Linked DNA regions of Homo sapiens. The protein of the gene in region 2 purifies or fractionates together with the protein of the main gene of each other region. This does not show direct contact. Each region holds a gene or a part of one and is shown on either strand. Other genes may lie near its edges. The genes, in order: PNPT1 and NVL.

Region 1 (3,822 bases), on a different chromosome or scaffold from region 2:
ACGATCTGCCAAAAGAAAAAAAAACACATTAAACCGTACTGACAGAGTTGCTTTACAGTTCAAAACGTTTGAACTAATATAGATAGCCATTCAATATGTTTTCAAGAAAAATCCCCTTGGACTGATTTACTAAGAGGGACACAGATAAATGTCAGTGCTTCCATTATTACATACCATGCCCTAACAACAAAAAACAAACACAGAAGAAGCACATTAACAATAAAGATTGGGGAGCAATTTTTCATTCTGGTTCCACAGGCAACAGTTACATATATAAGCAGAGCAAAGAGACTTAAGACCAATAGCAGACCAAAAGAAAATGCTTCCTTGCTACTTTGTGTCTGAAGACTGTATATAAATATACATAAAATAGCAATTTCTGGCCGAGCACAGTGGTTCACGCCTGCAATCCCAGCACTTGGGAGGCTGAGGCGGGTGGATCACGAGGTCAGGAGTTCAAGACCAGCCTGACCAAAATGGAGAAACCCCATCTTGACTAAAAATACAAAAATCAGCCAGGCATGGTGGTGGGCACCTGTAATCCCAATCACTTGAACCCGGGAGGTAGAGGTTGCAGTGAGCCGAGATCGTGCCACTGCACTCCAGCCTGGGTGACAGAGCAAGACTCTGTCTCAAAAAAAAGCAATTTCTGGGTAGAAGAGCTATAAATTACATATGATCCCACAATATGTAGGGATGTTAAAGATTTGAAAGATTATGGACATATTTCAGTAGCTGATGAACATAATGTTTAGGAATTACTATTCTGAACATGAAAAAATGTACTAGGAATAGATTCAACAAAGTAGAGGCATGGGCCAAAAAATTCATATGCTCAATAGAGATTTACTCATTTAGTCAACAAATATTTATTGAATGCCTATTCTGTGCTAAGCAGTATAACAGGTACTAGGGATTCAACCCTGAAGAAATAAAAGTTTTTTCTTTCACAGTGCCCACATTTGAGTGAGGGAAGAGAAGGAGTGAATAATCTTAGGTGGTGTTAATGCTATGAAGGAAAACTTAAGACTTATTGTAGAACACAGATGCAAGAGAAGAGATGCTAACATAGGCATACCAGAGAAGATGAACGCCTCTATGTTAATATCTTACCTATTATTCGACTTGTTAGAATTTCTTTATCAGAAGTACCAATCTCTCTTCTCAGATAGTTTGTGGGAATTCTACCTGCTGCAGCAGCTTTTTGTCTGTAGTCAACCTGAAGCAGCAATAAAAAAAAGTTCATATAATTCTTTTTGCAGAAACAAACTATACTGTATGAATGCTAATTCTCCTGAGGTTGCTAACAACACAGTCTAGACTCAGAGTAGAAAATGTTATTTACTTAGCATTTTGTATCTTTTGGGGAGAGGAAAGTTGATAGAAATGTTTCTGCAAAGTGATTTTAAAAAACGTTCAGGTGCAGTGGCTCACGCCTGTAATCCCAGCACTTTGGGAGGCCAAAGCAGGAGGACCACTTGAGGCCAGGGTTTTAGAACTGCCTGGGTAACACAGAAAGACCTTGTCTCTACCCCCAACAAAAAAAAAATTAGTTGGGCACAATGGCCTGTGCCCATAGTCCTAGCTACTCAGAAGGCTGAGGTGGGAGGATTGCTTAAGCCCAGGAGTTTGAGGCTGCAGTGAACTATGATCACACCACTGAACAACTCTAGCCTGGGTGACAGAGCAAGACCCTGTCTCTTAAAAAAAAAAAAGTCTTCTACTCAACAGTAAAAGTGGAAGAAGACTCACTATTTGCCACAGATGCTCATTCTGATCAAGTCAAACATTGCTTTTTTTTGGTATCAACTCTGTTAAATATAATTGTACACCCCTTTTCATAATAGAAGGGAGCTATAAAATTCTCATGAGCTCATTACTAAATATACACAGTTGTCTCTTGGTATCCCTGGGGGATTGGTTCTAGGACCTCTTGCAGATATCAAAATCCATGGATGCTCAAATCCTTGATGTAAAACACCATAGTATTTGTTTATAACTTACGTATATCCTCTCATATACTTTAAATCATCTCTAGATTACATATAATCCTTAATACAATGTAAATTCTACATAAATAGTTTTTATACCGTATTGCGTAGGGAATGACAAGAAAAAAAGTCTGTACATATTCAGTACAGATGCAATTTTTCCCCCAATATTTTCGATCCATGGTTGGTTGAATCCATGGATGCAAAACCCAAGGACATGGAGGGCTGACTGTACTTGCAGAGTCATACTGAAGGGAAACTATGAGGGCAATGAATTCATTGCTTATTCAATGTCAAAGTACTCATGCACTTCCAATCTTCTTGTCAACTTACGCACCTGGACGTTCCAAATTCTAAAGTATGCTTAATCCTAGTATTTGTTTATGAAGCAGTTTATACTCTTTTAATGAATCAGTATCAAAAAACTAGGAAAAATTCTTTGTTGTGCAAGTTTGTATTTTCCACTCACTAGACACTGGACAAAAATATTATACATTCTACACTTTACTCAGACCATATTACAGTTCAGATAAATCAGCAAATACTTACCACCAAAGGCATAAACTGGGAAGGGGAAGGTTTTGTTTTACTGACCGCTGTGACCATTACTGCAGTGTCACCTGACTTAAACATAAAGAACAACGCTGGTAAGTTCCTTTGAAATCAGATATTAGCATCTAAGTAGCAACTGAATAAATCCTTACTCCAATTAAACTCAAGAAAAGATATCTAATTCTACGACACGATTATGAAATAAAAAATATTCACAAGTAGTCCAATCTTGATCTCTGAGCTTTTCAAAAGCTATGGAATCAAAATAAGGAAAGATTAACAGGTAATTTAGTCATATTCAATGAATTGAATAGTATTCTCTACTTCTTATGTGGCTATACATAAGGAAAAATTCCCCAATTATTACTATAGAAGAAAATACCAAAATCACTTTCTCTAGAAAAGCACAACAGAATTTATTAACGCATAAAACAGAAGCCCAAGTTTGGAAAGGATGTTAAACGTCACTTAATACGGCTGGGCACGGTCGCTCACACTTGTAATTGCAGCACTTTGCGGGGGCAAGGCAGGTGGATCACGAGGTCAAGAGATTGAGACCAGGCCAGGCGCGGTGGCTCACGTCTGTAATCCCAGCACTTTGGGAGGCTGAGGCAGGCGGATCACGAGGTCAGGAGATCAACACCATCCTGGCTAACACGGTGAAACCTCGACTCTACTAAAAATACAAAAAATTAGCTGGGCGTGGTGGCAGGTGCCTGTGGTCCCAGCTACTAAGGAGGCTGAGGCAGGAGAATGGCGTGAACCTGGGAGGCGGAGGTTGCAGTGAACCGAGATCGCGCCGCTGCACTCCAGCCTGGGCAACAGAGTGAGACTCCATCTCAAAAAAAAAAAAAAAAAAGAGATCGAGACCATCCTGGCCAACATGGTGAAACCCCGTCTCTACTAAAAATACAAAAATTAGCTGGGTGTGGTGGTGCACGCCTGTAGTCCCAGCTACTCGGGAGGCTGAGGCAAAAGAATCGCTTGAACCCAGGAGGCAGAGGTTGCAGTGTGCCAAAATCGCACCACTGCACTCCGGCCTGGAGATGGAGCAAGAGTCCACCTCAAAAAAAAAAATAGGTCACTTAATACATGCAGTGCTCTGGACTCTGGTTGTCTGGAATGATTCTTGCAGTAGAAATTATCTTAGTAGTATCTGAATTAATTTCCAGTACCAAAATTCTAAGTAGTTACACGATGTTGTAGTTACACATTTAGTATGAGTCTCCGTAACCATTTTTAAGATGAATTTTAAAAATCTGGACTTTTTACCTGTACT
Region 2 (3,822 bases):
AGATGGGGGTTTCTCCATGTTGGTCAGGCTGGTCTTGAACTCCCGACCTCAGGTGATCCACATGCCTCGGCCTCCCAAAGTGCTGGGATTACAGGCATGAGCCACTGCGCCCGGCGAGCATGCTATTTTTCTAATCGAAGTTACTCGGATATTTTACATTACTGTCCCCTACAGTTTCTGAAAAATCTGAGAGGGTTAAAATAAGATTGCTAACTTTTAATTTCTCAAAGTAAGTGTCTATTATTACCATTTTAGAAAGAATTATTTTAAAACTAAAAAGTATAAGAACATGACTCTAAATAAAAATTTTGAATAAATTTAGCTATATGAAAAATAATATAACCCTAGTTTTCTTATTTTACTGCTCCTTAGAACCACTGGGAGGGCAGGTGCAGTGGCCCATGCCTGTAATCCCAGCACTTTGGAAGACTGAGACAGGAGGACTGCTTGAGGCCAGGAGTTTAAGACCAGCCAGGCAACATAGTGGGCTTCGTCTCTACAAAAAAACAAAAACATAAGCTGGGCGTGGTGGTATGTGTCTGTGTTTCCAGTTACTCGGGAGGCTGAGGTGGGAGGACCACTTGAGCCTGGGAAGTTGAGGCTGTAGTGAGCCATGATTGCACCATTGCACTCCAGCCTGGGTGACAGTGAAACTCTGTCTCAAAAAAATAAGTAAACTGAAATAACTATTGGGTTAAAGGGAAAGCAAAGTAACTAAAATGTAAGCTATGTGTTAATAAAAAGGTTTGTTTAAAACCGTATTATTATGGCCGGGTGCGATGACTCACACCTGTAATCCTAGCACTTTGGGAGGCTGAGGCAAGTGGACTGCCTGACCTCAGGAGCTCAAGACCAGCCTGGGCAAGAGGGTGAAACCCCGTCTCTACTATAATACAAAAAATCAGCCGGGCGTGGTGGCGTATGCCTGTAGTCCCAGCTACTGGGGAGGCTGAGGCAGGAGAATTGCTTGAACCCGGGAGGCGGAGGTTGCAGTAAGCCAAGATCACGACACTGCATTCCAGCCTGGGTGACAGAGTGAGACTCTGTCTCCAAAAAAAAAAAAACTGTATTATTTTACTTTTTATCTAACTCTTGCCATATAAACAATTACATACATTAAAAAAAAAAATCCCTCAAGTTGCTCGTGAGAAACAATAAATAAACTAAATGAATAAATTCCACAAATAATACCAGCATGATAACAAAGGGATCAGTTCCAATGACTATGTTCTCTTCCTGAAGAATGCCATGTCTGGTTTAAGTTGACCAAAGAGAAAAAACAAAAACAAATAATAACAACAAAAACAGCAAAAGCAAACAAATGTCAGCAAGCCTCACCCCAGCAATTGCATGTGCAAGTAATGTCTTCCCACAGCCTGGTGGTCCATGAAGGAGAACTCCACGAGGGGGCACGACGCCCAGGTGGTGGTACACCTCCGGGTGACGCATGTGTATGAGCATCTTGCAGACCTCCTAGCAGAGGATAAGCACAAAGATGTCTTTCAAGACAGAACAATCAAAGTAGAATGAAATGTCCTATTTTTCGGAGCAGTGAAATGGAGTAGATAGGTAGAATATACACCTTAGACTTAGATCAGACTTTGAATCCTGGCTCTGGTACCTACTGTGTGATTTCAGCAATAACCTCTCTGAGGAGCTATTTCCTAAGCTGTAACATTATATACCTTGAGGATGTAATGCAAAGTTAACTAGCATGGCAGATGAAAAAGAGTAGGCATTAAAAATAAAGTTACCATTACGGCCAGGCATGGTGGCTCACGCCTGTAATCCCAGCACTTTGGGAGGCTGAGGTGGGCAGATCACGAAGTCAGGAGATCAAGACCATCCTGGCCAACATGGTGAAGCCCTGTCTCTACTAAAAATACAAAAATTAGCTGGGCGTGGTGGCACATGCCTGTAAACCCAACTACTCGGGTGGCTGAGGCAGAAGAATCTCTTGAACCTGGGAGGCGGAGGTTGCAGTGAGCCAAGATCGCGCCACTGCACTCCAGCCTGGTGACAGAGCTACACTCCTTCTCAAAATAAATAAATAAAATAAAATAAAAAATAAATAAAAATAAAGTTACCATTACTATTAGTATTGCTAAGACAATATTACTTATAAAGCATGGATCTTATATATACTATAATTAAAATAATAGAAAAGTTCAAAATAGTATGCATCTTTTCTCCTGCAATGCCCTAAAGGGTACAGGTCAGGTTTGCCCTTCTCAACCTTCCCAGTTTCCTTTTCTACACCCAGATCATATTAGAAACAAAGAGGTAGGCTTTTTCCTCATAACTGATTAGTAATATATCCATTTGAGGTAAAATTCAGAATTTGCACTAACTTTTAATGTCATATCATTGCCTCCCACATCTTCAAACTTCACGTTGGAGATCTGGAATTCTAACCCCCTGGCTTTAGCTGGTAAACAAAAATGAGGAGATGAAAAGATTAATGATTCAGTAGTAACTCATAATTATAATGAATAGTCTTTAAGTAAACAAAGGTCCATTAAATATAGAAATATTTCCTGGTAAACATTTCTGCACATAGAAGGTCCCTCAAGCAAAATAGCTTGGGACAGAATGATGCTTCTCTCACTGCAAACATGACCACTGCCACCAACAAGACTCACACCTTACCTTTCTTTTGCAGGACAGCTTCAATTTCTCCATCTACTTCCTGAAGATCTTCTTTCTTCCTTTTGCTTCCTTTATTCTTTAGCTTGCCTTTCCGTTTCATATCACTCTCCAAAAGAGAAGAATCTTTTGAATCCTGGAAAGAAAATAAATTTAAATATGCCATGCTTAAAATTCTATGCCAATAATTGTTTTACTTTTTAAAGAGGGGCATTGTAAAGAAAATTCATTCCTGCCCTAGCACTTTCACCTCTGTTAACTATTCCCAATCTCTTTGCTCAAAGATGCTGTCTATTGTGAAAGTCCTTCTCCTCATTCCCTTAAAGCTCAGTTTAAATCTTAACATTTGGTGCTGGCCTTGGCAGCACATATACTAAAATTGGAATGATACAAAGATTAGCATGGCCCCTGTGCAAGGATGACATGGAAATTTGTGAAGCATCCCATATGGGGAAAAAAAAAAAAAGAAAAAAGAAATCTTAACATTTGAATGCCGCTTCTTTTCCAGATTCTTTCAGTTAGAGTTTGTTTTTGTTTTTGTTTTGAGACAGAGTTTCAGTCTTGTCACCCAGGCTGGAGTGCAACAGCGCGATCTCAGCTCACTGCAACCTCCACCTCCTAGGTTCAAACAATTCTCCTGCCTCAGCCTCCCAAGTAGCCCACCACCATGCCCAGCTAATTTTTATATTATCAGTAGAGATGGGGTTTTGCCATGTTGGCCAGGCTGGTATCGAACTCCTGACCTCAGGTGATCTGCCCACCTCAGCCTCCCAAAGTGCTGGGATTACAGGCGTGAGCCGCCCTGCACGGCCCTCTTTCAGTTAGATTTAATCTTGTCCTCACATTCCCAAGACACTGCATTTGCAGCTATTATCAGTTGGAATAATCTGCCTTGTATGAGTGATTCACTTATCTCTGTCTTTCTCACTGAATTGTGAGCTCCTTGATTAAGGACACTGATATTTGCCTTTTATTTCTCACTGAGTCTTCTATATAGTTGTCTTCATCTGACAGCTGATGATTCACTAAATTAAATATAACTACAGAGCTGCTTTGACAGTCATAACAAAGTGTAATTCAGCCAAGCACACTGGGACACACCTGTAGCCCCAGCTACTTGAGAGGCAGAAGGACCACTTGAGCTCAGGGTTTCAAGGCTATAGTGTTCTGTGATCA

The links.
Region 1: the proteins of NVL (region 2) and PNPT1 purify together in Homo sapiens (affinity purification with mass spectrometry; one large-scale study listed by BioGRID and IntAct). This does not show direct contact.

What each region holds. Positions count from the first base shown.
Region 1 is NC_000002.12:55,683,830-55,687,651, forward strand, and holds part of PNPT1 (polyribonucleotide nucleotidyltransferase 1, mitochondrial precursor), read right to left. Parts: coding exon 3,816-3,822; intron 2,616-3,815; coding exon 2,541-2,615; intron 1,220-2,540; coding exon 1,114-1,219; intron 6-1,113; coding exon 1-5. UniProt on the Homo sapiens protein: RNA-binding protein implicated in numerous RNA metabolic processes. Catalyzes the phosphorolysis of single-stranded polyribonucleotides processively in the 3'-to-5' direction. Mitochondrial intermembrane factor with RNA-processing exoribonulease activity.
Region 2 is NC_000001.11:224,302,385-224,306,206, forward strand, and holds part of NVL (nuclear valosin-containing protein-like), read right to left. Parts: intron 2,783-3,822; coding exon 2,650-2,782; intron 2,429-2,649; coding exon 2,352-2,428; intron 1,474-2,351; coding exon 1,339-1,473; intron 1-1,338. UniProt on the Homo sapiens protein: Participates in the assembly of the telomerase holoenzyme and effecting of telomerase activity via its interaction with TERT. Involved in both early and late stages of the pre-rRNA processing pathways.